2 separate regions of the Homo sapiens genome follow, and region 1 is linked to region 2. Evidence: fine-mapped expression QTL. A gene starts in region 2. The other region holds a variant in brackets. All regions are shown on one strand. Distances are from middle to middle. Region 1 has its middle 24 kb from the start of CCDC32. Region 2 holds the start of RAD51 (RAD51 recombinase).

Region 1 (16,105 bases), 150 kb before region 2:
TTACAATATTATATATCATAATTTCTATTCTCCTGTTGGTGGACATGTAAGAGGAAGAGGATAATGGTTCATCATGAGCTCTGTACCAGGTGCTGCCCACCACAGGCTACATACAGGCATTATCTTGTTTGACCCTCATGATCCTGCTATGCCCCAGGCTCTGTTCTAGTCTTGGGAACACATCAGCAAATTAAATAGACAAAATGGAACTTACATTCTAGTTGGTGTCAGGGTCGGGGGCAGATGTGCAATTAAAAGTATACATAATGCTGAAGAATTAAATGTTGAAGGAGTTTAAATTTTGAAAGTGTTTGCTATACATAATTGTCCTGCATTATTATTATTTTATTTATTTATTTTGAGATGGAGTTTCCCTCTGTTGCCCAGGCTGGAGTGCAGTGGCGTGATCTCAGCTCACTGCAACCTCTGCCTCCTGGGTTCAAGCGATTCTCCTGCCTCAGAAGGAGTAGCTGGGACTACAAGTGCGCACCACCACGCCCGGCTAATTTTTGTATTTTAGTAGAGACGGAGTTTCACCATATTGGCCAAGCTGGTCTCGAACTGCTGACCTTGTAATCCACCCACCTCAGCTCCCAAAGTGCTGGGATTACAGGCATGAGCCACCATGCCTGGCCATTGTCCTGCATTGTTATAAAGAGTTTTCAGCACGTTTTTTAAAAAAGGATACACATAATAAATAAGAAAAGTATGTATTATAAGATGCCAAATAATGTGTAAAAATAGCAGAGTAAGGAGAGTAATGGGTTTAGGAGGAGGGAGTGTTTTCATTTGAAATAGAGTAATTGGGGTAGACCACACCGAGAACATTTGAGCAAAGACTTGGAGGAGATGAGAGCAATCCCTGAATAACACATGAAGAAATCAAATTACTTTTACAATATGTTCTCGCTATGCCGTTAGAAAGCAGGCATTAGAAGGGCTAAGATCCCAAGAGGGGCTGGTGAAACTTGTATATATCTACATCATTGGCTAAAATATAAATCAGCCCAGTTCTTTTGTGAAGCATTATGTCAATTCACACAGCCATTTAAAATATTAATGACTTTTGACCTGGTAATCCCACTCCTGGGAATTTGTCCTAAGGAAATTTTTGCAAAGAAGAGAAAAAGCTCTATGTGGAAAGATCACTGCAGCAGTATCCATTTGTCTTAGTCAGGTCTAACCTTAGTCAGGTTTATTTCTCACAGTTCCGAGGTTGGAGTCTGAGAATTGGGGGCCAGCAGGGTCCAGTTCTGGGAGAAAGCCCTCTTCTGGGTCTCCAGCTGTATTAATCCATTCTCACACTGCTATAAGAACATACTGGAGACTGGGTAATTTGTACAGGAAAGAGGTTTAATTGGCTCACAGTTTGGCATGGCTGGGGACGCCTCAAGAAACTTACATTCATGGCAGAAGGGGAAGCAAATATGTTCTTCTTCACAGGGCAGCAGGAAGGAGAATGAGAGCCGACTGAAGGGGGAAGCCCCTTCTAAAACCATCAGATCTCGTGAGAACTTACTATCACAAGAATAGCATGAGGGAAACTGCCCCCTTGATTCAGTTACCTCCCGCTGGGTCCTTCCCACCACACGTGGGGATTGTGGGAACTACAATTCAAGATGAGACTTGGATTGGGACACAGCCAAACCATATCACCAACTGTCTACTTCTCATTGTATCCTCACATGGCAGAAGAGAACTAGCTAGGTCTCTGGCCCCTTTTTGTAAGGGCACTAATCCCATTGATAAAGGGTCCACTCTCATGACCTAATTACCTCCCCAAAGTTCCATCTCCATATACCATCACATCAGGATTAGTGTTTCAACATGTATATTTTAGAGGGACACAAACACACAGTCCATTGCACCATCAAAGTGAGGAAGTGATGGGCTCAGAATGGTCTTGGAGTCAGATGTCAGGGTCTGAAGGCTTGGCTGTATGATCTGCCACTTGGTATCTGTGTGGTCTTGGGTTTAGTGACTTGATCTTCCCGAGCCCATGCCTGCCGTGATGGAAGGAAATCAGTTTGGGAAAGTCCTGGGGGACCAGACTGTGGAGGGTCTTGACTGCTAAGCCAGCGACTCCAGGCTCTGTGCAGTCAGCAGGAGAATCATTACAGGTATTTGATCAGAGCTGTGCATCAGGAAGATTAACGTGACGGTGGCATATAAGATGAATGGAATGGGGGAGAATGCAGAGGTGGGGAGGCCACTTAGGAGACTTCTGCAGTAGTCTACATGAGAGGCAATGACTAATTAAATGAAACAGCCCAAACTGTATGAGCACCTTGTAGGTGATGAGCCATTATCATAGATCTCCAGCCTCTCCATAGCATCTGTTTTAAAGTCTGCACTGAACAGAAATATTACAGAATAATGCTTTATATTTCTAACCCTTTGCAGTTCAAAAAGTGCTTTCATGAGCATTCTCTCATTTGATCTAGGGTGTTTACAAATTTATATTTTGAAGGAGTTTTTCCACATATTGAAATTGGGCCTATAGATTTATAGTTTTCAGGGCCCGCCCCTTCTCTCCTCCTCCACTCAGCTTCCTTTCGTTCAGTCTTCAGGCACTTCATGGTTCTTTATTCCTTTTCACAACCAAAAAAAAAAAAGAAAAAAAATAGTGCATGCTGAACAACACACCAGGCTCCTTGCTAAGTCTCTCCAAAAGCAGGGAAGTCATCAGTGTGCGGGATTTGAGCACATGTGGTTTATTTAATCATTCGTTCATCTTTCTCTGATTGCAGTGGAGTTTCACACGTTCCACCATATGCTGTCCCTGAAATGCTCTGCACACACTAGTGAGAGCCCATGAGGGGGCCTAGCCTTTGCCTTCCCTCCTTGTCTGCCAGGATTGAAGGAGGAAATCAGGTTGGGAAAGTCCTGTGGGACCAAATTGTGGAGGAGCTTGACTGCTAAGCCAAGGACTCCAGACTCTATGCTGTCAGCAAGAGAAACATAGGTATTTGATCAGAGCTGCCCATGAGGAAGGTTAATCCAGCAGCGACTCCCTTAATCCAGCAGTGACTCCCTCCAGCTTCAGCCCTTCCCCAGTCTCAGGGTTGGAGGGAGTGTCTTTTGCTGGAGTCCCCCAAAGGGGTCCCAAGTCACCAGGAGACACAGGACTAGCGATCACCCAGGAGGCCTGCAGCCTGGGTCTCCACTGTGATTGAGGCTTCCTAACTCTGGCTTCTTGGGCTTCCAGAAGCACTAATGAGCAGGGCTGAGCAGTAATTAAGACTGTGCTCTGTTCCACATCATCACGCAGCACAGCTGCAACTGCTGGGAGGAAGGGGAAGGAGAGAAGACCGGGAAGATGCCTTTAGCCCTGTCTTCCCACTCTGAACCTACTTGCTCTCAGGCTCTCCAGTGCAGCAAGGAGGGGTTGGTAAAGCCATGGGATGAGGGAACAGCTACAGGAGATGGCTGCCCAGGGCTGGGGAAATAGCGTTCAGACACCAGCCAGCTGTTGCTGCTCCATTCTGCATCCCAGGTGGGGTGCCAATGGGCCAAGCCATGATTTTCTCAGAGGTGAGGACCCCTGTCTTGCAACCAGCCTGGCACTACAGGCCCTGCAGCAGGAGGGGGCTGTGATCTGGCCAGGGGGAGCTGGGTGGAGGACGAGTATGACACATGAAATTATGAGTCTCGGACCTTCTCTGGCTCACATCCCAGAACAGGGGCCTCTCTTGGCAAGGGCCCACTGCAAGAACAAGTACTCAATGAGCAACACAGAGCCAAGCTCTGGAGGTTCACAGGTCACACTACAAGCCAGTTCATTCCACGGAACACACTCTCCAGTGGAGAAGTGGAGGTCAAAACAGAGTCATGACTGCTACGATGGTGATGAGAAAAAGTTCCATGGGGCCACAGAGTCACCTAGGGTCGACTGAGGACAGCTTCACTTATATGGTGGCACTTGAACTGAACCTTGAAGTAGAAGAGGGATTCACCAGAAAATATGGTTTTGGCAAAGGGAATAGAGAACAAAGGCAGGTGGCATGAGATAGTCAGCTGCCAGGAGACGTGGTGGGCCTGGCCCAGAGCATGAGTGGAGCGAGAAGGGAAGGATTCTGGAGAAAGGAACCAAGAGAATCTAGAATTCTAAAGGACCACCAGGGGCTCCAGGCCTGGCAGGAGCAACTAACAGGATGACCCACCTTCCCCAACTTACACCACCTCAGGCGCTGGGCAGATGCTCTGTGACTTTATCAGTATCCCTGGGGAGTGGTGCCAGCCCCAGGTGCTGAGCTGGAGGGGGGATCACAGAGGAATCAAGGGACTCAAGGAGGGAAGGCAGCTGGAGGGAAGGGGCTTGGGCAGAACGAAAGAGGAAGGGGCTTGGCCCTGGGCTCTCATCCACTCCTGAAGCCCATGCAGGGAACAGTGAATGATGCAGTGCCTGTGTCCCAAGGTCCCAGCCTCGTGTGGGACCATCGGGGCACTAGCAGCCTTCCTGTCTCCTACCCCTTGCTCTGGGGGCCACGGGTACATGAAGGTTTCCAGAACCCAGGGAAGAGGCCAGAGGTTCAGTAATAGCTCTACAGGAGCATAACTAGAGAGTGATGACCAACTCCCAAAATACAGAATGTTTATTTTGAGCTCCACAATACATGTCAGTCAGAGAAAGGTTCGAGTCTCAAAAATGCTGGCTCTTGGCCAGACGCGTTGGCTCATGCCTGTAATCCCAGCACTTTGGGAGGCTGAGGTGGGCGGATCACTTGAGGTCAGGAGTTCAAGACCAACCTGGCCAACATGGTGAAACCCCGTCTCTACTAAAAATAGAAAAATTAGCCAGGCATGGCAGTGGGCACCTGTAATCTCAGCTACTGGGGAGGCTGAGGCAGGAGAATTGCTTGAACCTGGGAGGTGGAGGTTGCAGTGAGCCGAGATGGTGCCACTGCATTCCAGCCTGGGTGATAGAGTAAGACTCCGCCTCAGAAAAAAAAGCTGGAGCTTCAGTAATGCTGACCACTTTTAAATATATGTAATCAGCACTCATTTCAAATAGTCTTTTAGCAGCATGCTAACTTATGACTACAAGGTCTGCGGTCCCCTCTCCTGCCAAGTGTCCCCTTCCCCTGTACAAGTGGCCCAGAGGCAGTTCTCCAAGGGGATTTGGGGACTGTACTCCTGTATAAAAGAAAGCCTGTGGTGCTGCTGTGTTAAGTTACCCACCTATTGGCTGGTGAGTGCCCCCTTCATGTCTTTCCTGAAGGTAGATTTTCAGTAAATAAGAAGACCACATTTTTTATTCTGAGGCTATGGTCTTGTTTTCCATAGCAGTGTGTCCCAGAAAGCTCGAGATCTCTTGCATGGCCATGATTTGAAAGTCTGGAAATGGGATCCACTGGTAAGCTATGTTCTCCATGGAGCTCACCTGAGGCTGCCCTGCACCCCTCGCCTCTCCCTCAAGGGGTCACAGGGCACCTGTGGGCACCTCTTTCTGCTGCCTGTATGTCCGCCCCAATAGGAGAAAGAGGGGGCATAGAGGGAAATGAGTCTCCTTCACTGGTTCGAATTAGCGGGAAGCCTGTGAGTCCAAGCCCCCCTCAAATTCAGGCAACGACCAATCCGGCTTCCCTTTCTGTGCCCTTGTCAGAGAAGAGGCCGCTGGGCCCAGGCCTGTCCCTTTCCTCCAACCTGGCAGGCATGGGAAGCAACTGTGGAGGAATTTTAGAGCTGGGAGAAGCAGAGGGAGGATTGGAAAGCCTTTTATTTTCTTTGAACTTTTCCATTTAAAATATTTCTATTTTTAAAAGAATAATTTGGTTCTTTTTAATTTAGCATGTTTTCCTTAGAGCAATAAAGGCTTTTGCAATATGGAAAAGGTGACATTTGATCTGAAGGAGTCTGGGGGAGCTCTGAGTATAGGGAACTGACCTTTAGTACCCACCCATGAGCGCTGCCAACTGGGGGCCTGAGGTCTAGTGCTTGCCACAGGTGGGCTCACCGCAGGAGCCTGCTGGTGACCAGCCTGTCCCTCTTCCCATGGGTTCTCTAGCTGGCTCTGACTAAAGCCCTGTCTCTCTCTTGGCTCTCTCGCCAGCTGTCCCACTTCTCAGCTTCTCCCTTTCTTCATTCAGCCCAGCCCAGAAGCCCTGAGGGCTGGGCCAGAGGGAAGTAGTTGTTGCTGTTTCTCCCCAGCTCCCGCTCAAACCTGACACCACAGAAAGGTCAATCCCACATGGTTCTGCACATCCCTGCCTGGCCCGCCCTGGCTGTTACCATGACGACTGCTGGGCTGGAAATGTCCTTCGCCACCTCTGCTCAGCACACTGGTGGCTGTCCCACGCTCCATCCTCAGAAAAGCTGCTGCTGCCAGGGGTTCTGGAGTTACAGGGCCTATGGGAATAAGACAGACCGACAGAGACGAGGAAGATAGACAGATACAGTCAGAGGCACACACTAACAGAGTCAAAGAGAGACAGGCATACATAGGAGCACCGAGAGTGCGAAGGTGCGAGGAAGTGAGGTGTCGACACAGCCTCAGCCGTGCAGGACTGCAGGAAAAATAAAGCAAAGTGGAGCCTGAGACAGAGACAAGAGACAAACGGAGGCACAGGGGACACGGGGGCCCGTGGCACCACAGCAAGAGGCCAGGCAGAGGAAGAGAGGAAAAGCAGAGACCAAGGCAGTCAGCTCTCCGCTGCCCCTGCTCCCATCCCAGGAAATTTCCTTGCCCAATAGGTCTCTCTTGGCCTCCTGCTCTCTGAGATGTCAGGCAGGGTCTGTCTGAGTTGATTTGTTGGCCAGGCTGTTCCTCTGGCTGGACAACATTTGCCACCTTAAGAGGGGCCCTCCCCTAATAAGAGTGATCAAACTGTTGCCACACACACACACACACACACACACACACACACACACACACCCCGCTCCTTGCCCTTGATTCCATGTCACCCCAAACTCATCATAAATACCTACTCAGCCTCACTTCGCCCAGGTGGTGAAATGGGCATTGGAACAGTGTGAAGGGTTGATTTTCAAATTGCGGCAAAATCTAGGGAATAAGTGTGAACCTCAGAGATGATGATGCCCCTGGAGGTAATGAATGGGCAAGAGGAGGGAAAAGACAGACTGAACAGTGAGTACCAGACAAGAGTGTGGGGCCCAGAGGGTGGGAGAAGGGATCAGGGAAGAGAGAGACAGGCTCAGAGCTCTGACTAGG[G/A]CAATCCAGAGGAGTGGTAACAGGAGGGCTGGGCCAACTGGATTGGCCTTTAGTGCCTGGCAGGGAACACTGCCTCTAACATCAGTGCCATGATTTCCCATCTTTGAAGTGTCTCCAAGGCTTTGAGGGAGGCTTCTCAGGGTCTTTGAATTCTTTGTCGTTCTTCTTAGCATTTTTTTCTTTTTCTTTTTCTTTTTTTTTTTTTTTGAGGTGGCGTCTCGCTCTGTTGTGCAGGCTGGAGAGCAATGGCGTGATATCGGCTCACTGCAACCTCCGCCTCCTGGGTTCAAGCTATTCTCCTTCTTCAGCCTCCCGAGTAGCTGGGATTACAGGCGCCTGCCACCATGCCTGGGTAATTTTTTGTATTTTTAGTAGAAACAGGGTTTCACCATGCTGGCCAGGCTGGTCTCCAACTCCTGGCCTCAGGTGATCTGCCTGCCTTGGCCTCCCAAAGTGCTGGGATTACAGGTGTGAGCCACTGCACCCAGCCCAGCATTTTCTTCTTAGAAAATGATTAGGCTGTCAATACAGGAAACTCTGGGGCCGGGCCAGTCTCTCATCTATCCTAACCTTGACCACAGTGTGAAAGGACAGTAGAGTCAGTGCCCCTAATGTCACCATGTTCCAAGCTCACATATGAGTGTTGAACAGGTGCCAGCCTGGAGCGTCCATTGCCCTGGTGCCCTCAGTCCAGAGAGCCCAGTGAGAAGCTGGGCCAAGAAGGAAGACTTGAACCCAAGAGAGCAGTGTGTGGACATTCAGACTAGGCTGGGCTGAACTCACCCCCGGGGAGAACCACTTCCCACACTGGGCCACAGAGACCAAAATGTCAAAACCAAAGGTCCCGCACAGCCCTGGAAGGCGGATCCTGGCCTGGGCGGGAAAGAGACTGTGCCAGATGCTCACGCGCTGCCTCACATCCCTCCAGCCCATTTCTGTGACCAGCCGCAGCTGCAGCGGATGCTTCTGGTACATGCTCAGTTTCCCTCCTCTCTCCTCTGCGTGAGGCTTTTCTTAGCCCCTGCAGGGCTGCCTGAAAGTGGCAGGGGCTTAATACCTCCAAAGAGCAAACCTCAACCAATGAAGGATGGGCACTGGTGGAACTGCAGCCCAGATGTGCCCCGTCAGTCAGTGGCAAAATTCTGAGCTGTAATATTTTTTTTTTTTTTTTTGAGACGGAGTCTCGCTCTGTCACCCAGGCTGGAGTGCAGTGGCTCCATCTCGGCTCACTGCAACCTCCGCCTCCCGGGTTCAAGCAATTCTCCTGTCTCATCCTCCCAAGTAGCTGGGACTATGGGCACACACCACCAACCCGGCTAATTTTTGTATTTTTAGTAGAGACATGGTTTTGCCATGTTGGCCAGGCTGGTCTCGAACTCCTGACCTCAGGTGATCCACCCGCCTCAGCCTCCCACAGTGTTGGGATTACAGGCCACCGCGCTTAGCCTAAGCCATAATCTTTATGTCTCCTCAGAGTGATCCCAGGGCGACAGCCCTAACTACCCACAGTGGACCTACTCAACACAGGGAGCTGTCTCATTCTCCTCCCTCCCTCACTCCTGCTCACCCCCTAAAATCAGCCACCTACATACAGGTCCTTGTCTCAAGGTACACGTTCAGAGAACATAAAACAGCACAAGAGCGACCTTTTTGTGATCTTCCAACCCAAGAGTCTGTCCCTCAGGGTTGAGCTAAGATAAGAACTGTTGGAGGGCTCTGCCTCTGACCACTGACTGGTAGGTGATCAGGTGTTTGTCATTATTATCTAGGGAGGAGAAAGAAGAACTCACCAGCTCTCCCTCCCAAATGCTGGGGAGACCAGGGCTGACTTAACAGCAGCAAGCCCCCATAGGTCTCCAGTAGCCAACCACAGATTTTCATAATTGGAAAGGACCTTAGGGGTGACCTGATCCAACTTTCTACACAATGCAGGAATCCCCTTTACAACCTTTCTGACATCTGCTGACACACCTCCAGTGACAGGGAATTACTATCTTCTACAAGGCCACCCTATTGTTGAACAGCTATTAGAAAGTTCTTAACACTGAATGGTAATTGGTCTTCCTGAAACTCCCTGCCATTGGTCCTAGTTTGTCCTTTGTACTTCAGTGTGTCTCAGCTTTCTACCCAATACTCCTTCAAATATTTTAAAGCCAACCGGGTCTCTCTTAAATCTCTTTTCTATGGAAAACAATCTTATTGTCTTGTCCTGTCTTCAAATAACTCGATCTGAGCCTGCTCACCCTGGACCCCTCCTCTAGGGAGCATTGCAGTTTGTCGATGTTCCTCTGTAGGAAAAGACCCTGTTGCAAGAATGGCACCACCTTGAAGCAAAACTGCCATAATGACTGATGTTTGACTCCTGCATACCAAGGCATTCCTGTGGCAAGGTCAAGAAACAATGCCTGGGCCGGGCGCAGTGGCTCATGCCTGTAATCCCAGCACTTTGGGAGGCTGAGGCGGGAGGATCACGAGGTCAGGAGATTGAGACCATCCTGGCTAATACGGTGAAACCCCGTCTCTACTAAAAAATACAAAAAATTAGCCGGGCATGGTGGCAGGCACCTGTAGTCCCAGCTACTCAGGAGGTTGAGGCAGGAGAATGGTGTGAACCCGGGAGCAGAGGTTGCCACTGCACTCCAGCCTGGGGGACAGAGCGAGACTTTGTCTCAAAAGAAAAAAAAAAAAAAGATGCCTGGCCAGGTGGGGTGGCTCATGCCTATAATCCCAACACTTTGGAAGGCCAAGGTAGGAGGATTGTTTGAGCCCAGGAGTATGAGACCAGCCTGGGCAACATACTGAGACTTTTCTTAAAAAAAAAAAAAAATTAGCCAGGGGTATAGTCACAGCAAACTCAGGAGGCTGAGGAGGGAGGACAGCTTGAGCCCGGGAGGTTGAGGCTGCAATAAGCTGTGATAATGCCACTACACTCTAGCCTGGGTGACAGAGCCAGACTCTGTCTAAAAAAAAAAACAAAATGGAAAAGAAAGAGAAAAAAGAAAAGAAAGAATGCCTGTAGCATAAATAACCCCTCATAAAGATGCTTATCTAACCTCCCCAGTGGTCATGAAACTTGCAATAAAGTCTGAGGTGTGACCAGCTGCACATGTTTTCCCCTAAAAACTTGTTATACAAAGGATACTTTCTGGAGGGCGGGCATGGAAACCACCATCTCGTGACCAACCAAGGTATGGCTTCTGTGCATAAGTTTCTATTAAGCATTTATCTCTGAGAAACTAGATTCGTCAGCCTCTCTCTCTGTTTTGTTTTTGTTGTTGTTGTTGTTGTTTTTTTGAGACAGAGTCCCACTCTGTCGCCCAGGCTGGAATGCAGTGGCATGATCTTGGCTCACTGCAACCTCTGCCTCCCAGGTTCAAGAGATTCTTCTGCCTCAGCCTCCTAAGTAGCTGGGAGTACAGGCGCACGCCACCGTGCCCAGCTAATTTTTGTATTTTTAGTAGAAATGGAGTTTCCCCATATTGGCCAGGCTGGTCTCAAACTCCTAACCTCGTGATCCACCCACCTCAGCCTCCCAAAGTGCTGGGATTACAGGTATGAGCCACTGCACCCGGGCTTGTCAGCCTGTTTCTTTGGCCCCTCAGCTCTCTTGGCCTTTAGGGGTAGGTTTGCATAGACCTGCTCACTGCAGAACATCCTCTTGCAATGTGGTGCCCAGACGATGCTTTCAGAGAGGCATGACCACTGCAGAATATATTTTTACACTACTATGTCCCAGGTACACAGGTACATTTCCACTATTGATTCCTAGAATTATAACTTTTTTTTAGCAGCACATAACACTGCTGACTCCATTGAACTGTTAAGACACTGAACACCTGTTTGGGGTTTTCCATACCACTTTCCCCTTTCTTCAGCCAACAGCAATCCTCTTTCACTTCCCATTCTCATATGGTTCTGGTGGGACTGTTTACCACAGTATCCTGTACCCCTAACCATAGATCTTGCCCTTGTCATAGTCAGTGCTCCAATGATGAGCATGTGACCCAGGCCAAGCCAATCTGAGTCCCTCCCCTGGAATGTATTTATTTATTTGAGACAGGATCTTGCTCTGTCGCCCAGGATAGGGTGCGGTAGGGCAATCATAGCTCACTGCAGCCTCAACCTCCTGGGCTCAAGCAATCCTCCCACCTCAGCATCCCGAGTAGCTGGACTACAGGCATGCAGTACCACGCCAGGCTAATTTTTAAATTTTTTTTTTGTAGAGACGGGGTCTCTTTCTGTTGCCCAGGCTGGTCTCAAACTCCTGGGCTCAAGTGATCCTCCCACCTTGGCCTCCCAAAGTGCTGGGATTGTTAAGCCTAAACCACTGTGCGGAGCCCCCTGGCATCTATTATATGGGGTTGGAAAGTGTTATCTTTCCTCTGGACTTCCTAAACTGGAATCATGTCAGCCCAGAGCTCCCTGTGCTATACCAACACACAGAGAGAGTCAACAGTGGGAGGAAGAGAGGCTAAAGATACTGCTGGAGTCCTGAGGTCCAGCTAACTGAAGCCAGCTCTATATGTCTTAGACTAGAATTGAGTCCGGCTTGGATTTTTTTTTTTCAACAGCCTTGGAAAACTTTCCAGAGTCTGGCTTCTTGGCTTCTGTCACTAGAACAAACTAATAAATACTCTGTTCTTCTCTGTCCTCTAGTTGTGTAGTTAATTTCTGATCCCAAATGAAAGATTTCACATTTATCTGTATCATGTTTCATACTTTGTCCCATCACTCTAGTCTATAGAAAAATTTTAGAATTGTTATTCTTTTATTCAATTACCTACTCCTCTCACTTTTGATAAGGTTACCTTCTATTCACTCAACCAAATCATTGATAAAGATGTTGAGCTGAACAGAGGAAAAAGAAACCAACAACATGTCAGTTTATCAATCCAAGAGTTTACCTTTGGGATGATTGTTCTAACAACTGTGGGTCTCCTCTACCATACTCTTACCCAATGTACACTCCGCATCCTGTCTGCCTTGATCAGGCACCATGCTGAAGACCACACTGCACCTTGGCATTCTGCTAAGCCAATATTTGATGGTCTCATCCCCAAAGGATGTAAGATTAAAGAGCCAAAACTGGTCCTGGAAATATCTGTTCTTTAAAATGCTCATAAACTCTCAGTAACCTATCTGCTTTCTTCTGCACACATACACACACACACACACACAATCCCTCTCACCTTTGCCTCCTCCCTTTCTACTTATCTGCTAAAGAAGTAATTTTTAAAAGTGGATTACGTCAAAATGAAGGGAGGAGAGAGTCAGTTTGTTTGGGAAAAGAAAACCTTTAGAGCAATGTGTGACACAACACTTGGGACAGAGGAGGTGGAGAGAATGGGGGGAGATGAACATCTCTCTGCCACACATTGACTAATAGGAATAGTACATTGAGGGCTTAGGAAAGGCTGGGGCTGGAGGCTAGGGAATCGAGGAGCAAAGGCCCACTACTGTTCCACTTTGGCCTGTAGGAGGTGGTGTGGGGTACCAGCAGAGAGCACAGGCACTGGAGAGCTAGGCTTGGCTCTCCATCCTGGCACCACCACCTGCTAACCACCCACTACTACCTGCTGAGAGCCTGCAGCTCCCAAGACAGACACTCAGGTGCCACACTTCCCTCCACTCAGTGACCAAGCCTCAGTGGTTCTCCTTGCAAATGCTCCCATATCCACTTCTCTCTAGCCTTGCCGCCACACCTCATTCATGTAACTATCATCTCTTCAAAGATTTATTCTGCCTCATTCTCTCTCTCTTCACCTTCTGAGGCTGGAATCACATGTATATTAGACTGTTATTGTCCCACAGCTCTTATAGGTTTTGCTTTGTTTTGCTTTTCCCCCATCCCAGTTTCTCTTTGTGTTTTAGTTCAGAGAATTTTTATTGACCAGTTCAAGTTCACTGGTTCTTCACCTATGCCTACCTACTGAAAAGCCTGTGGAAGCAATTCATCTCTAATATCATGTTTATTTCTAGCATTTCCATTTGACTTTATTTTTTCTTTTTCTTTCCTTTTTTTTTTTTTTCTGAGATAGGGTCTCACCCTGTCACCCAGGCTGGAGGGCAGTGGCATGATCTTGGCTCACTGCAACCTCCGCCTTCTGGGTTCAAGTGATTCTCTTGCCTCAGCCTCCCAAGTAGCTGGGACCACAGGCACGAGCCACCATGCCTGGCTAATTTCTGTATTTTTTGGTGAGATGAGGTCTCATGTTGCCCAGGCTGGTCTCAAACTCCTGTGCTCATGTGCTCCTCCTGCCTTGGCCTCCCAAAGTGCTGGTATTACAGGCATGAGCCACCACGTCCAGCCCCATTTCACTTTCTCTTAGTTTCCATGTCTCTGCCAAAATTCCCTATCTGTTCATGCAAGTTGCCCACCCTTCCCCACCAGACCCCATAGTAATTATAATTATTTTAAGTCCCTCTGTGATAGTTCCAACATCTGTGTCATTTGTGAGTCTGGTTCTGTTGATTCATCTTCTGATAATGGATTGGGTTGTTTTCTTCTTGTCTTTTTGTGTGTTTTGCAATTTTTTTTTTTTTGAGACAGTCTTGCTCTGTTGCCCAGGCTGGAGTGTAGTGGGGCCATCTCAGCTCACTGCAACCTCACCCTCCCAGGTTCAAGTGATTCTCCTGCCTCAGCCTGTGGAGTAGCTGGGACTACAGGCACACACCACCAACACCTGGCTAATTTTTGTATTTTTAGTAGAGATGGGGTTTCGCCATGTTGACCAGGCTGGTCTGAAACTCCTGACCTCAGGTGATACACCTGTCTCGGCCTCCCAAAGTGCTAGGATTACAAGTGTGAGCCATAGCGCCTGACCTATGTTTTGCAGTTTTTTAACTGAATGCCCATGGTGTATAAAACAGCAGAGACTGAGGTAAATAGTATCTGTATCTGGGAGTGGGGCTGCCTCTTCTGTCAGCCTGTTGGTCTGGGGGGTTGAGTCAGTCTTGTTAGGAATTGGACAGGGTTTGGGTTTGGTTGTGCTCTCATTACCTTCAGTGCACCCCAGGTTTCAAATTCCTCTAGTGGTGGGCTGCTTAGAGTGGGGACTGGGGTGTCAGGGCTTCCTCAGTGCTGCTGTCCCACACTCAGCTTTTCAGCTGGCAGAAGACTTCTGTTGCTTGTGATCTGGTGCCAGGCTCAGGCAGGGCAGGGCAGGGTTGATTCTGTTACCCTGGCCCGGCTTCAGTCTTAAATAGGTCCTAGGCACCCGAGCTTCAGCAGTGGGACTTTCTCAGTGTTTCTGTCCCTCTTCCCTATGGAAGCCAAACTCTGCCTTATATGTGGTTCATCTGGGATTAGCCAAAGTTCTTGCCCTCCCCACAACAGAGTGGACCTTCGCTTGAATCTTCAGCCCAGGACAGTTTCCTGCTTCTGCCCCTGGGTAGGGGGTTTCTGCTTCTAGTCCCAGGAGCAATGGGTCTTTGCCTGTTCAAGAAGGGCAAGAAGGTTTTGACACCTCACCAGAAGCAGATAAGTTTTGCTTTTATTCCTCCCACTGAAGCAAAAGTTTGTTACCCCTCCCGCCATGGCTTAAGGCTTTTGCTTAAAGGAGAGGATTGTGGAAGTTGAGGCTTTTTGCCTTCCACCAGCAGCCGCCTTGATCAACCTCTGCATGCATGCATCACCAAGGAAGAACAGTCCCTCCCTTTCCTGACCTGTTCCCACTTTTCTCCATGAACCCCAGGGGAGGCCTGTACAAAAAAGGTTGCCTTTGCACGCACTCTCGTGTCTAGAATCCTATTCAGCTATTCTAAACTGATATGCTAGGCCACATGTGGACTTTACAAATTTGTTAACATTTTTATTGTCTTTTTCTTACCCACTTGTAAGACAGCCACATCTTTGCCAAAGTTGAAACAGTTGATGGGTCACTATCTCTCCTTCTATTTCCTCTCACTCCTATTCATTTCTATGAACTCAGCTCCCCTAACACTATCTCTCCTTTATTTGGTTGCCTTGTGGCCTTGGCTTTCTGATGGGCTCAAGAAAAGTTATGATTTTGTACCTGCTTTTTCACATTGTTAGGACGGAAGGGACATTTTCTTGCAGTATTCTACATCCTAAGTGGAAAAAGTCCTCAAGTACTATCATCTCTTTCTTAGACAACTGCAACCACCTCACAGCTGGTCTCCTGTGTCCAATTTTGCCCCTCTCCCTACTGTAGCCAGCATAAGTATTAAATTCTGCAACCATCGCAGACTAGAGGGGGCTGCAAAATAAAATACTTAAAAATTAGCTACTTAAAACCTGAAGCTTAGCTTATGGTGCATTGGTTATCTATTGCTGAGTAACAAATCAACCCAAAACTTAGTGGTTTAAACCATGACATTTATTGAATCTGTAGGGCTTTGCAGGGACAGCTTGTCTCTGTACCACTTGGTGTCACCTGGGACAGCTTAAAAACTGGGGGATGAAATCATTTGAATTACTTACTTATATGTCTGATGCCTGGGGTGGGAAGACTCAAACAGCTGGGACTCCCTGGGCTTCTCTACCTCTCTGTGGCCGACTTCTTACATGCCGGCTCAGAACTACCAAGGAGCATGCTGAGAGAGAGAGAGAGAGACCCCAGGTGGAGTGCTTTCATGACCTTGCCTCAGAAGTCCCATTATTTATGCTGTACTCTATTAGCAAGGCAGTTACATAGGTCTGCCCAGGTTCAAAGGGAGGGAATATTGACTGAAGATCTCAGGGGAGGAGTGTCCACATCACACTGGAACATGAATGAGTGGGATGGGATACACTGATTTGGCCATCTTTGGAAAATACAATCTGCCATACATGATTCTACTTGTTCTGTAATAGTGAAAAAATAACAAGAAAAATTGAAGTAGAAAATAAAAACAAAGAAAAACCATTTCACATAGACATGTATCGCTGCCAAGTGTGAATAACTTGTCCACCCTCAATCACTTTAATTATGG
Region 2 (16,105 bases):
CTCTGTTCCGTCCAGCTCACCGGCAGTCAGAGTTTAAGGTTATCTCTCTTGTTCCGTGAACATCACTGTTATCCTGTTCTTTTTTCAAGGTGCCCAGATTTCATATTGTTCAAACACAAATGCTCTACAATTTGTGCAGTTAACACAATCATCACAGGGTCCTGAGGCGACATACATCCTCCTCAGTTTACGAAGATGACGGGATTAAGAGATTAAAGTAAAGACAGGCATAGGAAATCACAAGGGTATTGATTGGGGAACTAATAAATGTCCATGAAATCTTCACAATTTATGTTCTTCTGCCATGGCTTCAGCTGGTCCCTCCGGGGTCCCTGACTTCCCGCAACATCTCTCCCTTTCTTTTTATAATAAATGTGCCATGGCAATGAAGGCTTGTTCGTTCTCTTGATTTTGACGCAGGATTCTTTGACTAGTCTGGCAAACTAAAAACAAGCCGATTAAACAGAGAAACATAATTCCAAAATTTACTACAGTGGAGCCCCCAATAGACTTAATCCAAGTCCTGGGGTTTAATCCAGAAAGATTTTCTGCCACCTGATCTAACGCCTCAGCTCCAGGCACAATGGATAAGTGAGCTTGAGAGGCTTCAAAAATTTGTCTCTTTAATTTAGTTATGTCCAGTGATAAATTATCTTCCCTACCCAGAAGATGTCTTTTGACCATTTCCCATGAATGATCAGTCTCGTTATAGGAATACGGGGTGATGCAGAAATCTCAAGTGTTCCAATCGTACTGCATTTGCATGTGATGCTCGAGACTCACTACCTGATCTCCAAGCCAAATAACAGACTGTCTTAAATCACTAATTTGATTTGCCAATTTTCGATCGATGCCTTGTTGAGAATTCCACATTTGGATGGAATTGGCTTGCCAACCATTAACAAAATGAGCCGCTTGAATGGACTGGTGTAATGCCATTCCGGCAGTGGTGGCCACTGCAGTGACTGTAATTAGGCCCATGATAACAGCAATTAAAGTGAAAATAAATCTCTTAGATCTTTTTAGAATTCACTGTAACACTTCATTAATTAAATGTATTGAAGGGGAGGATTCCCAAGGTCTGGGCAAAGTTACCGGAATCCAGATTCCTTCTTGAGCTCGAACCAACATTACACTTTTCCTGGAATCAAAATGGGAGTTAATACAAGTGTATAAATGACAATTAATGCATTGGACAGTTTGATTGTTCATCCAAATTTTGATATATCTCACTAACAGCATGCAAGGAGGCTTAACAGAACTCTGTATGGAAACAGGTTGGAGGTAGGTAAAGCAGAATGTCTGGATCTACGTTGATACTGAGAGAGGGAGATGGTAGTGGGGACAACAGACAGAATAGTTTCTGCTTCCCATACTTGCAGTCCAGACATGGCAATAGCCAATTTCCAAAGTTCTGGGTGTTCTGGGTCAGAATGGGGAGTATCATATGAGGCCTCGGAGAGGGGGTAATGCCTTTATCTTCCCATTTTAAGGAAAAGAATGAGCTTAACCTCCGATGCAAAGTAGTATGATGATTCTCGTTCTCCTGATAAGAAATAAAATAAGTGCTGGGATTACAGGCATGAGCCACCACACCCAGCCCAAATGGTTGTAATTTTAAACATTACTTATAGAAATTCTAAAATCTGTCAAACAGATTTAATAAGAAATTTGCAGCAGGGAGCAGTGACTCTCACCTGTAATCCCAGTACTTTGGGAGGCTAAGACAGGTGGATCACTTGAAGTCAGGAGTTCAAGACCAGCCCGGACAACATGGCAAAACCTCATGTCTACTAAATGTACAAAAGTTAGCAAGACATGGTGGCAGGCATCTGTAATCCCAGCTACTTGGGAGGATAAGGCAGGAGGATTGCTTGAACCCAGGAGGTAGAGGTTGCAGTGAGCCAAGATCGCGCCACTGCACTCCAGCCTGGGTAACAAGAGGGAGACTTCATCTCAAAGAAAAAAATGAAATAAATAAAATTACAAACACTTGAACTTACAGTTGCACAAAACTGTTGAATTTTATGTGTTGCAAGAAGGCAGAGCAAGATGGCTTAATAGAATCCTCCAGCAGTCATCCCTCCGACAGAAATATCAAACTGAACAACTACATTAAAAAAGCACCTTCATAAGAACCAATAATCAGGTGAGTGATCGCAGTACCTGGTTTATTATCATATTAAGGAAACAGGCACTGAAGAGGGTAAGAAATAGTCTTGAATTGTCAACATCATCCCTCTTCATCCCCTGGCAGTGGCCAATTGGTGTAAAGAGAGAATGGGTGCTCCTGGGGGAGGAAGAATACAATGATTGTGAGACTCTGCATTTGAACTCAGTGCAGCCCTGGCACAGCAGAAAGCCACACAGGGCAGAACTCAGCCAGTAACCCAGAGGGAACATTAGATCAACCCTAGCCAGAGGGGAACTGTCCATTCCAGGAGCTGGAACCCGAGTTCTGGCAAGCCCCACAGGCTAAAGTGCTTTGGAGGCCTAGGTAAACTGAAAGGCAGTGTAGGCCACTGTTGCGAGAAGTCAGGGACCCCATACTTTCCATATAAACCTGCAGGAAAACCATGCCCTAAAAATTTTGAGGGCCCATCTAAAACTTTAATTTGGGAAGACTATGTTAACTCACATGCAGTAATATTAAAAAATGACTCATATGGTTTAGTAATAGACTGGGCGCCAAAGGGCTATTTAAAAAACAATTGCTCCTCTGGTGGAAGGGAATGCCTGGAGGCTACTTATTGAAAGTATGGGGTATGTCCCATTACTCCCCCTTTCATTTGTTTTAAAGGAGAAAGGGAGAGGCCAGAGACCAAATGTCCCGGTTCCTCTGTAGCTGATCTCTCGGGAAGATAAGCAGCCCAGACTTGAGTTTCTAGATGGATATAACCAGGTGCATTTCTGAGGCACAGAGGGTGTTATTTATAACCCATGATAACATTAAATGTAGTGCCTTCTTCTCCTGGTTGAGCAGGGCAACGGTCATCTGTAGCTCCAGGCATCCACAAACTATCGTTAATGTAGATTTCCGCAGGAGCATCAATCCAGGTGAGAGGTCGAATAAGTGGAGGAAAGGGCACATAAGCCCAATAAGAATAATTTTGTGTAGCAGGTAAATAAGTGTGAGAGGAAACTGGTGAGACAGAAAGTATAAGGAGGAGAATCATTAAGTAAAACCTAGTGTAAGCGAGATTCAGTGCTGAAGGAGGAAGAGAAGAACAGAGGGATGTTATTTTCAGGCTAATAGAAATGGTGAGATTTTTTAGGTCTGTAAGGAGAAAAAGAAAGGTAATTAGAAGTGGGATTAGTTAGATGGGTCTCCATTGCCATCAGGGAGGATCGAATCAGACCCATTGTGATTTGGTGTGCCTGCTTCTGAGTTAACAAATCCATCACCTCACGTACTTACCATTTTTTGTGGTGAAAACATTTAAAATCGATCATGTATATATGTTTAACACAGAGGTATTTTTCCCAAGGTTCGGCTGGGCTTAGTTTTCCTAGGAAAACTGGATTACGGTACTTGTAAGTTTAATGGATGTGAAATTGATTGAATTTTAAGAAATTATAGCAAACTATATTCAGTTGAACCTTGGGGAAATATACTTGTAGAAAGATGTTCATTTATTTACAATGCATGTCTGCTATTCCAGGACTCTCATTTTGTAAGCATACTAGAGGAGGTGAATTAGGAGCAGATTAGATCACTTGATACACATTACCTTATATATAAAGAATACATATATATGTATGTGTGTGTGTATGTATCTCTATATATATACATTTATATATATGTATTTATACTTTTTTTTTTTTTTTTTGAGACAAAGTTTCACTCTTTCGCCCAGACTGGAGTGCAGTGGTGCAAGGTGCAATCATAGCTCACTGTAACCTTGAACTCCTGGGCTCAAGCAATCTCCCCTCCTCAGCTTCCCAGACAGCTAGGACTACAAGTGTGCATCACCGCACCTGGCTAATTTTTAAAAAAAGGTTTTTTTTGGCCAGGCGCGGTGGCTCACGTCTGTAATCCCAGCACTTTGGGAGGCCGAGGCGGATCATGAGGTCTGGAGTTCGAGACCATCCTGGCCAACATGGTGAAACTCCATCTCTACTAAAAATACAAAAAATGAGCCGGGCGTGGTGGCATGTGCCTGTAGTCCCAGCTACTCGGGAGGCTGAGGCAGGAGTATCGCTTGAACCTGGGAGGCCGAGGTTGCAGTGAGCCCAGATCTCACCACTGCACTCCAGCCTGGCGACAGACCGAGACTCTATCTCAAAACAAAAACACAAAAAAAACAAAACAACATTTTTTTTTGTAGAGTTGGGGGGTCTCACTACATTGCCCAGACTAGTCTCTAACTCCTGGCCTCAAATGGTCCTCTCACCTCAGCCTCTCAATGCACTAGGATTACAAGTGTGAGCCACCACACTCCAAAATTTTTCAATTAACACATTTATAAATATTCTCAGAGAATGCCAATTTAACTATTAGAGGGAAATCTAGTTTGCCTTATTTCCAAGTTCTCAGTGGGTTGTTTTGGAAGAAAGGAACAGAAACTACTCAAACTAGTTTAATCAATAAAAATAGAAGGTAGAGTTATTGGAATGTAGGGATATCTCATAACTCAAGAGCATTAATCCTTAAGAGTTCAAGGTTTTTTTTTTAAAAAAAAAAAAAAAGTAAAAAAGAACCCAAGAGCAGGAGGAGTAAGTACTGCTAGGCTTCTGAGAAACTGGAAAGGCGATCTGGAAAGGAGTCAGAATTCAAATGGTTTATTTATCTTTGACTCTCTCCTTAGTATCTCAATTTCTTTTTCTTTTTCTTTTTTTTTTTTTTTTTGAGACAGAGTCTTGCTCTGTCATCCAGGCTGGAGTGCAGTGGCACGATCTCAGCTCACTGCAACCTCTGCCTCCCAGTTTCATGCGATTCTCCTGCCTTGGCCTCCTGCGTAGCTGGAGGCTAATGTTTGTATTTTTAGTAGAGATGGGGTTTCACCATGTTGGTCAGGCTGGTCTCGAACTCCTGACCTCAGGTGATGCGCCTGCCTCAGCCTCCGAAAGTGCTGGGATTACAGGCTTGAGCCACCACACCCGACATCAATTTCTTAATCTTTCTGCAGATGTGCTTTCTCTGATTGGACATTCACACACATCTATCTGTGTACTTTGCCCCATAAATTCCTGAGGTCAGACTTGAATATAAAGCCAAGTCTAATTTTCCAGGAGCAGGAAAATGATTGGCCAATTTGGGGCCAGATGAACACTGCTGGTACAACTGGTGGCCAGAAAGGTAAAAGTCATGTGACTACAGTCAGCTAGGAGGAGGGCTGTAGGTTTGCAGATGCTCTAAGGGTGTGGGAAGAACCGGAGGCAAAGGTGTGTAACTTTGATATGGAAGAAAGTTCACTATTATCACAGGTAGTATCTATAATCACTAAGTTAGGTTGTTTCTACATCCAGAAAGCTGCCTGAGTCTGTTCTCTCTGTCATTCCTCTAATTCAGAGGACCCCAACGCCCCAACACAGACCTGTCGCCTATTAGGAACTGGGCTGCACAGCAGGTGAGCAGCTAGCAAGCAAGCATTACTGCCTGAGCTCTGCCTCCTGTCAGATCAAGGAGAGCATTAGATTCTCACAGGAACTCAAAACCTATTTTGAACTGCACCTGTGAGGAATCTAGATTGCACACTCCTTATGGAAATCTAATTGATGATCTTGAGGTGCAACAGTTTCATTCCGAAACCATCCTCTGCCTCATGCCCACCCCCCGAGCCCTGTGGAAAATTGTCTTTCACAGAACAGCTCCCTGGTGCCAAAAAGGTAGAACTGGAATCTAATCCAAATCTTCATCTCTTTGTTGAAATATTGCAAGAACTTCCTTTTTGGTGTCTTCACTTTCACGCTCCTGAAATCTGTTCTTCAACGCCACAAGGTAATAGTGTGAGGATTAACTAAAAACTTTGTCAACTTTAAAGCACTCCACAAATATAAAGTAGTAATAAGGCCATTGCAATGGTTCACACCTGTAATTCCAACACTTTGGGAGGCCAAGGTGGGAGGATCACTTGAGGCCAGGAGTTCAAGGCCAACTTGAACAGAGCGAGATGCTGTCTCAAAAATAAAAAAATAAGGCCGGGTGCGGTGGTTCACACCTGTAATCCCAGCACTTTGGGAGGCCACGGTAGGTGGATCACCTGAGGTCAGGAGTTCGAGACCAGCCTGGCCAACATGGTGAAACCCTGTCTCTACTAAAAATACAAAAAATTAGCTGGGCGTGGTGGCAGGCGCCTGTAATCCCAGTTACTTGGGAGGCTGAGGCAGGAAGACTCGCTTGAATCTGGGAGGTGGGGTTGCAGTGAGCTGATACCACGTCCCTGCACTCCAGCCTGGGCAACAGAGCAAGACTCCATCTAAAATAAATAAATAAATAAATAAATAAAAATAAAAATAAATTGGTAAGTGGAGGGAAAATAGATCTAACCAAATGACTTGTCTTCTTAAAAACTTCAATGATTTCTTCAGTACCTAGAGACCAAAGCTCCTTACCTTTTTTTTTTTTTTTGAGACGGAGTCTTGCTCTGTTGCCCAGGCTGGAGTGCAGTGGCGTGATCTCGCTCACTGCAACCTCCACCTCCCGGGTTCAAGCACTTCTCTGCCTCAGCCTCCCAAAGAGCTGGGATTACAGGCATGCACCACCACGCCCGGCTAATTTTTGTAGTTTTAGTAGAGATGGGGTTTTGCCATCTTGGCCAGGCTGGTCTTGAACTCCTGACCTCGTGATCCGCCCACCTTGGCCTCCCAAAGTTCTGGGATTACAGGCTTGAGCCACCGCGCCTGGCCTCTCCTTACATGTTTTGTTGTTGTCGCTTGTCTTTTGAGACAAGGTCTCACTCTGTAGCCCAGGCTGGAGTGCAGTGGCCCATCATAGCTCACTGCAGCCTTGACGTCCTGAGCTCAAGCAGTCCTCCCACCTCAGCCTCCGGGATAGCTGAGACCACAGGCACAAGCCACCACGCCCAGCTTATTTTTTTTTTTTTTTTTTTTGAGATATGGGGTCCCACTATGTTGCCCAGGCTGGTCTCCAACTCCTGAGCTCAAGCGATCCTCCCCCACCTTGGCTTCCCAAAGTGCTGGGATTACAGGTGTGAGCCACCGTGCAGGCCTTATATGATCTTCATATCCTGAACTAAATGTAACCTTCCAGTTTCGGCACTTGCTCTGGCACTTTTCCTCCCTCGCCAGATAATACTAATCTTTAATCATGTAGTTCGTTTCCATGCCCATACTACCCTATTTGCTTATAATGTCTTCCACTTCGCCCAAGAATCCCTACTCAGCTAGCTTGTGGTGTTGTTTTGACACAGTCTCGCTCTGTCGCCCAGGCTGGAGTACAGCGGCGAGATCTCGGTTGGCTGCAACCTCCTCCTGAGTTCAAGCGATTCTCATGCCTCAGCCTTTCGAGTAGCTAGGATTACAGGCATGTGCCACAAAACCTGGCTAATTTTTGTATTTTTTACTAAAGACGAGGTTTCACCACGTTGGCCAGGTTTATCTCCAACCCCTGACCTCAGGTGATCCGCCTGCCTTGGCCTCCTAAACTGCTGGGATTACTGGCGTGAACCACCGCGCCCGGCCCTACTCAGCCTTTAAAACCGGAATCACGGGTCAAAACTTTCTGGTAAACCACGATACGGTTTAGGTTATGAAATTCAATGCCCCCTTCCTCTGAACTCCTGCAAATCTCCAGTAAAGCACCACAGATTGACGAATATTCCAGCCATTTCCCTCTCCCGTACGCTAGCTCCATTTCCCACTTCTATCCATCTTCTCGAGCTTCCTCAGCTCCTCCACCTCCATGAGGCCTGGAAAGCACCTTGCTCCAGGAATGCGAGTAGGAGGCTCAGAGCGACCAGAAGTGCCAAAAGCTGACATTCAGATACTGCCGAAACAAACCACAAGAGCGCTAGGGCCCCCGCTAATAGTCCAGCTGCGATGGTGAGAACTCGCGGACCCGCCGGCGATGCATGCCGGGAGATGTAGTCCCGGGCCGACGCATTACCTCTTGGGAGTCGTGGTCTTCGATCTGGTAAACAGAAGACGGCAACTCGGTTAAGTCTTCCCCCACCGCCCCCTGAAATCCCTCGCCCCACCCGCGAGGGACTGGGGTAGGAGTAGGGGCGTTGCCGTGGTTAGCCTCGAACTCCTAGGCTCAGACGATACTCTCGCCTCGGCCTCCCGAGCAGCTGGGACTACACGCGTGAGCCACCGCCCCCGGCATAAAGTTTGAATTAGTCCTTACGCAAAAAGGGAAGAGGGCAGTCTGTAAACTCGCGCAGGATCAAGCTCTCGAGCTCCCGTCTTGGGTTAGCGCGCAGGGCGGAAGCGGGGAGAAGGCGGATCCGGGAGGCGGGGATACGTTACGTCGACGCGGGCGTGACCCTGGGCGAGAGGGTTTGGCGGGAATTCTGAAAGCCGCTGGCGGACCGCGCGCAGCGGCCAGAGACCGAGCCCTAAGGAGAGTGCGGCGCTTCCCGAGGCGTGCAGCTGGGAACTGCAACTCATCTGGGTTGTGCGCAGAAGGCTGGGGCAAGCGAGTAGAGAAGTGGAGCGTAAGCCAGGGGCGTTGGGGGCCGTGCGGGTCGGGCGCGTGCCACGCCCGCGGGGTGAAGTCGGAGCGCGGGGCCTGCTGGAGAGAGGAGCGCTGCGGACCGAGGTGAGTGTGTGAGGCGCAGGCTGGGCCCTCCAGAGCCGCGGCTCGTCCTCGCCCACCTGCGTCCTGGCCGGTCCAGTGCTCAGCGGCAGTTGGGGCCTCCGCGCGCAGTGTGAAACCCGGACGTGGCAGGGCGTGTCCGCGCCCGACCGACCCTCAGCTGCTGGGGCGAAAACACAAGTGGACCTCAGTCTTTAGAACTAGGGGAGAAACATTAGAGCCTTTATAGGCAACACCTATTTTATGGGTTCGAGCGAGAAGTCCGAGATCAGAGCGGTGTAGCCACAGCTGTTTAATATCACAGCCAGGGCTTCCGGATTCCTGATCTGTCTTTCCATTACACCGTGCTTAGAAAGTACCAATCTCCGATTGCCAAAACAGTGTTTTCATCATCTAATGCGGAAAACCATTCACATGATGCCTAGAGAATGATCTGAAGTGAGGTTTGGTTTTCTTAAAACTTTTTTTTTGAGATGGAGTCTCGCTCTTCCGCCCAGGCTGGAGTGTAGTGGCGCGATCTCGGCTCACTGCAACCTCCGCCTCCCGGATTCAAGCGATTCTCCTACCTCAGCCTCCCGAGGAGCTGGGATTACAGGCCCCCACCACCACGCCGCCAGGCTGATTTTTGTATTTTTAGTAGAGACGGGGTTTCACCATGTTGGTCAGGCTGGTCTCGAACTTCTGACCTCAGGTTATCCACCCGCCTCTGCCTCCCAAAGTGCTGGGATTACAGCCGTGAGCCACAGCGCCTGGCCCCTGTTTTTTTGTTTGTTTGTTTGTTTTTAACTTCTAAAGCGCAATGTAATATACATGTAGAAAAATTCACATTCACAACTGTATACAACTCCGTGAATTATTACAAAATATACTGGCCGGGCGTCGTGTCTCACGTCTGTAGTCCCAGCACTTTGGGAAGTGGAGGCGGGAGGACGATTGAGCCCAAGAGTTCGAGAACAGCCTGGTCAAGATAGTGAGACCCGCATCTCTACAAATAGGAAAAATTAGCTAGGCATGGTGGCGTGCACCTGTAGGCCCAGCTATTCAGGAGGCTGAGAAGGGAGGATCTAGCCTGGGAGGTATAAGCTGCAGTGAGCTGTGATCAGGCCACTGCACTCCAACCTGGGCGATAGAGCAAGACAAAATGAATATACACCTATGTAATCACCACTTAATAGAATGGTCCTCAGAAGCCTTCCTGTGTAGTATTTAATATTTTCCCCTTTTTACAGTGGTAACTGCTATACTGGTTTCTAATGAGATGAACTAATGTTGCTTGTTTTTGAATTTTATATAAAAATACATCAGGAGTGTTGAGTGTTTCGTTGTTTCACATGCTTGCCAACACGATATTTTTCAGCCTTTTTGATTTTAACTATTCTGCTGGTTACACAGTAATGTCTTAATGTGATTTTAATTTTCCTGATTAATAATGATGTTGGACATCTGTTCATATGTTTTTGCCCATTTTGATATCTTCTGTGATGTGCTTGTTCAAATCTCTTGCCTATTTTTCTATTATCTTTTTCTTACTGATGTGAAGTTCTTTATATACTGGTTATCAGCCCTCAGTTATGTTTGTGCTAAATGTTTTCTCTACTGTGGTTTGACTTGTCACTCTCTTAGTGGTGTCCTTTGATGAATAGAAGTGCTGAATTTATTTTTTTATTATTTATTTATTTATTTATTTTTCCTTTTGAGACAGAGTTTGGCTCTTGTTGCCCAGGCTGGAGTGCAATGGCACAATCTTGGCTCACCGCAACCTCCGCCTCCCGGGTTCAAGCGATTCTCCTGCCTCAGCCTCCCGAGTAGCTGGGATTACAGGCATGTGCCACCACGCCCAGCTAATTTTGTATTTTTCTTTAATAGAGACAGGATTTCTCCATGTTGGTCAGGCTGGTCTTGAACTCCTGAACTTAGGTGATCTGCCCGCCTTGGCCTCCCAAAGTGCTGGGATTGCAGACGTGAGCCACAGTGCCCAGTAGAAGTGCTGAATTTAAATGTAGTTCAGTTTTCAGTCTTTTCCTTTTTGGCTAGTGCGTTATGCATCCAGTTTCAAGAAATCTTTTTCTGTCCCAAGGTTGTGAAAATAATAAGTGTTACTTTGTTTTTGACAGACGATTGTACATATTTATGAGATACAAGATGATATTTCTTTTTTTTTTTTTTTTTTTTTGAGACGGAGTCTCACTCTGTCGCCCAGGCTGGAGTGCAGTGGCGCGATCTTGGCTCACTGCAAGCTCCGCCTCCTGGGTTCACGCCATTCTCCTGTCTCAGCCTGCCACCACGCCCAGCTAATTTTTTGTATTTTTTAGTAGAGACAGGGTTTCACCATGTTAGCCAGGATGGTCTCGATCTCCTGACCTGGTGATCCACCCGCCTTGGCCTCCCAAAGTGCTGGGATTACAGGCGTGAGCCACTCCACCTGGCCCAAGATGATATTTCAATACATATATACATTGTATAATGAATGATCAAATCAGGGTAATCAGCATATCCATCAGTTCACTTAAACACTTGTCATTTCTCTTTGTGATGAGAACATTCAAAATACTCGCTTCTGGCTATTTTGAAGTATACATTACATTAGTGTTTACTGTAGTCACCCTACTGTGAAATAGAACCCTAGAACTTATTCCTCCTATCTAACTGAAACTTTGTGCCTGTTGACCAACCTCTCTCCTTCCTGCCGCCCCCTGCAACAGCTGCATTCTCCTCAGTCTCTGGTTACCACTGTTCTATTTGTTCCTTGTATGAGATGAACTTTTTTTTTTTTGTTTTTTTTTTTGAGACACAGTCTCACTCTGTCATGAGGCTGGAGTACAGTGGCACGATCTCGGCTCACTGCGATCTCTGTCTTCCGGGTTGAAGCCATTTACCTGCCTCAGCCTCCCGAGTAGCTGGGACTACAGGCGTGTGCCACCACACCCTGCTAATATTTGTATTTTTAGTAGGGACGGGGTTTCGCATGTTGGCCGGGATGGTCTTGATCTCCTGACCTGGTGATCTGCCCGCCTCGGCCTCCCAAAGTGCTGGGATCACAGGCATGAGCCACCGCGCCCCGCCAAGATCAACTTTTTTAGATTCTACATATGAGTGAGATCATGCAGTATTTGTCTGCAAACACATTTATAATGTATAATGGGGTATATAAAAATAAGTAAAACTTGGCCCCTACACTGAAGGAATATAAAGCAGGAGAACAGAGAGGCACAATAAGAGAATGGCCTTGGCTTTTCCTAAAGTCTTTTTGATACGACTAGCTAGATAGAAGATGGGGAGAGAGATGCACCTTATTTCTCTAGTGTTTATACTGATAAGCATTTGTATTTTTCAGTAATGGCAATGCAGATGCAGCTTGAAGCAAATGCAGATACTTCAGTGGAAGAAGAAAGCTTTGGCCCACAACCCATTTCACGGTTAGAGGTATGTGGTTAGTTGCTAATTTTGGAATTATATACTAGATTCTTCTACCTAGTGGAAGGTATTACAACCTTTACATAAAATATAGGTTTACTACCAAGGTCAAGACCCAAATTAGACTTTTCAGAAGTGTTGTCAATAATCCTGTGGAAAGGCTGCAGATCATTGCTAAATATGTCTGGCAGGGCCTCTTCCTTTGTCAACAATTCTCTTCCTACTTTATCATTTTTATTTCTGAGAGTTGGACTGTCAGAAACTAAGGCCTAGGATCCCATGGTGGAATCTCTGTGCTGTTTTTGTTTGTTTGTTTGTTTGTTTTTGATGGAGTTTCGCTCTTGTTGCCCAGGCTGGAGTGCAATGGCGTGATCTCGGCTCACCGCAACCTCTGCGTCCCAGGTTCAAGCGATTCTCCTGCCTCAGCCTCCCAAGTAGCTGGAATTACAGGCATGAGCCACCACACCCAGCTAATTTTATATTTTTAGTAGAGACAGGGTTTCTCCATGTTGGTCAGGCTAGTCTCGAACTCCTGACCTCAGGTGATCCACCCTCTTTGGCCTCCCAAAGTGCTGGGATTACAGGCATGGGCCACTGCGCCCAGCCTGTGCTGTTTTTTTGTTTGTTTTTTAAGAAATGGGTCTTAACTGTGTTGACCATGTTGATCTTGAACTCCTGGCCTCAAGCAGTCCACCTGCCTTGGCGTCCCAAACTGCTAGGATTACAGGCATGAGCCACCATGCCTGGCCAAAGCATCCTGTGCTATTTGCACTAAGTATGAAAGTGCTGTTCTGGGAATTATAGCGGCCTGGACCAGTTATGCAAGGAAGACAGGGAAGCACCTTCTCTCCATTAACCTAGATTTGTGCTGTCAGCTGTCATTGGCAGAGAGAAGGGTGTGGTGGTGTTATGGTATAAGAGACAAGCTCCAATTCAGGATTCTGCACAAGAACATTAAGCACCAGAGCTGAGGCCTTACACTATTTCTGCCCATTGTATAGAGACTGCCCTGTGAGTGCAGCTGATTTGGGCTAAGTAGGAGGAAAGCAGAGAAAGACTTGATTCTTCTGTCTCTTTTTTTCATATTTCCCATCTCTGACTAATCTTCAAGACTCTAGAAGTTAGGAGTGCAAAAGGCTAATAAAAAAAAAAGACTCTAGAAGTTACTTAAATGGATTTGTGATAAACATTTGAAAGTTCAGAGTCATAACTTCTGGTGCCATGAGCATCCTTATACTCAAACATGCATATTGCTTAAATATTAATAGCAGACATGGCTTATGTTGGCAAACTAATCTCTCCCCTCTTCTAAATTCTCCCAACCCCTGAATGCACCCACATTCACCTACTAACTCATGTTTTCCCAGAAGTCATGGTTTTGGTGGCTAATGAAACCAAAGCTGACTTGAATATAGGAAGAAAGAGGTGTCTTTGGGTGGTTTGTTTTGAGAAGAGGTATAAAAGTCCCTGACAAAAAGTAGTTTTCCTCACTGTTAATGTCAGTTGTTAGAGCAGAGCTTTCTGGTCATTGTTCAACAAAAAGTATTGACAGGCCAAGATAGTGCTCTTTATATTCTGAGCAGCCTTATCTATTTACCCTACCATAGTGTAAAAATACAGTTTTTTATGTGTGCTTGATGTGGAAAGTGTTGAGCAACACTGTCTTAAAGTGGTCTTGTAGGGCCCAAGGTCTCAGAGATCATTTAGGGTCACAAAAAAAGGTTGGGAGTTACTTTTTAATTCCAATTGCTAATAGGAGTTCTTTTTAATGTACATGGCTTAGTGCTAGTTTAAAATTATTGATTTTGATAATGAAAAGGTTGTTAATTTGTTATTAAGTACCTCATATATAGGGCTCATTTTTCAGCTTTTGCATATAATAACAGTAGGCTCTCTGTATCTCCGGATTCTGTATCAGCAAATTCAACAAACTACGTATCAAAAATTCAATCAACTACATATCAAAAAAAAGTATACAGGAGGATGTACATAGGTTATATGCAGGTAATACGCCATTTTATATAAGGGACTTGAGCATTGTTGGATTTTGTTATCTGCTGGGGGTCCTGGAACCAACTTCCCATCTCCCCCCGCCCCCCCAAGGATTTCAAGGGACAGTTGTATTACAAGTCTTCAAGCACCTCTGTGAAGTATGTAGGACACATAACATCTGTGTTAGATTAGAGAACTAAAGCTTAAATTTATCCATGGTTTTCTTCATTTGCAGCAGTGTGGCATAAATGCCAACGATGTGAAGAAATTGGAAGAAGCTGGATTCCATACTGTGGAGGCTGTTGCCTATGCGCCAAAGAAGGAGCTAATAAATATTAAGGGAATTAGTGAAGCCAAAGCTGATAAAATTCTGGTAAGTACTGCTTACTTAACCTAGGGAGGCATTAGTGGGAATAGTACAAAAGGGAATGTAGTGAAAGACTTCTTCCTTCTATCTCTTATTCTTCGGTCATCTCATTATCCTTTCCAGGGGTGACTGTTACCTGTTTCTTTTCTTCTTTTCTTTTCTTTTCTTTTTTTTTTCTTTCTTTTTTTTTTTTTTTGGAGACGGGTTCTCGCTCTGTCACACAGGGTGGAGTGCAGTGGTGCCATCTCAGCTCACTGCAACCTTCACCTCCCAAGCTCAAGCGATCCTCTCACCTCAGCCTCCCAAGTAGCTGGGACTACACTACAGGCACATGCCACCATGCCGGGGTAGTCTCGAACTCCTGAGCTCAGGCGATTCACCTACCTCAGCCTCCCAAAGTGCTGGATTATAGGTGTGAGCTACTGTGCCTGGCCTATTTATTTTTCTAGCTTCATATAGTTCTTTAACATACATACTTCCCCATGGTTACATTTTGTTTTATGAACCTATTTCTTCAGTGTTTATATAGTTACACAGTTTTATTGCCTTTACCCTTGAAGTTTTATGTAGTATAAAGCAGATTTTTTTTTTTTTTTTTTTTTTTTTTGAGACGGAGTCTCGCTCTGTTGCCAGGCTGGAGTGCAATAGCGTGATCTTGGTCTACTGCACCCTCCGCCTCTCAGGTTCAAGTGATTCTCCTGCCTCAGCCTCCCGAGTAGTTGGGACTACAGGTATGTGCCACCACACCCAGCTAATTTTTGTATTTTTATTAGAGACAGGGTTTCACCACGTTGGCCAGGATGGTCTCGATCTCCTGACCTTGTGATCTGCCCACCTCAGCCTCCTAAAGTGCTGGGATTACAGGTGTGAGCCACCGCGCCCCACCGCAAATATTTATTTATAAAATTGTATTTTCACGTATCGATTACTGTTAGCGTTAGATAAATTTATTGGATTACTCAAATGAATATTTGCTGAAGTGGTTGCTTAATTGGAAATAAGGGTTCTGAGTCCCTAACAGTATTTTTGTTAAAAGATTGTCATATTGACTAAGCCAGTAGGGGTCCCTAAAGTCTTTCTGTTTTCGCTTTTTGGGTATCAGTTTTTGTGAATGAACAAATGCTGACAGGATCTTTTCTTTTTGCCTTGCGAGATCTTGGTTTCAGAAATCAAGTCACTTCTCTGTTTCTATGAACACAACAATGCAAACCTAGAATACATGATTTGAGATGCAATATGGTATAGACTTACGTGTCTTTACTTTTCAATATTTTATGTTCTTTGTTTCTGGCCAGTAAAGATTATGATTGTATTGTTTGTTTTCTGTTTTTTTTTGAGGCAGAGTGTCGCTGTGTCACCCAGGCTGGAGCACAATGGTGCAATTTTGGCTCTGCTCACTGCAACCTCTGCCTTCCGGGTTCAAGTGATTGTCGTGCCTCAGCCTCCCAAGTAGCTGGGATTACAGGCTCCCACCACCACACGTGGCTAATTTTTGTATTTTCAGTTGAGACGGGGTTTCACCATGTTGCCCAGGCTGGTCTCAAACTCCTGGCCTCAAGCAATCTGCCCACCTCAGCCTCCCAAAGTGCTGAAATTACAGGCACTAGCCACTG

What was found. PIP is the estimated chance that this variant, and not a neighbour inherited with it, causes the effect. A credible set is the group of variants that fine-mapping cannot tell apart.
Region 1: its variant is the best candidate, but not a certain one, in a credible set for the expression of RAD51 in blood mononuclear cells (TOPMed, PIP 0.77).

The regions. Positions count from the first base shown.
Region 1 is chr15:40,533,008-40,549,112 of GRCh38, forward strand. It overlaps a transcript of CCDC32 not described here. Among named protein-coding and RNA genes, the nearest start is that of CCDC32, 24 kb to the right of the region's middle. RefSeq lists a silencer at 10,680-10,779 and an enhancer at 10,930-11,029. The variant G/A (reference allele first, on the strand shown) is at 7,172.
Region 2 is chr15:40,686,704-40,702,808 of GRCh38, forward strand. It overlaps RAD51 (RAD51 recombinase), which reads left to right and starts at 8,471. Exons shown (of 10, transcript NM_002875.5): 1 at 8,471-8,722; 2 at 12,054-12,142; 3 at 14,361-14,498. The coding sequence starts at 12,056. It overlaps RAD51-AS1 (RAD51 antisense RNA 1), which reads right to left and starts at 8,402. Exons shown (of 2, transcript NR_040058.1): 1 at 8,309-8,402; 2 at 7,031-8,092. RefSeq lists enhancers at 7,461-7,640, 7,523-8,120, 8,001-8,150, 8,621-8,680, 8,718-9,315 and 1 more.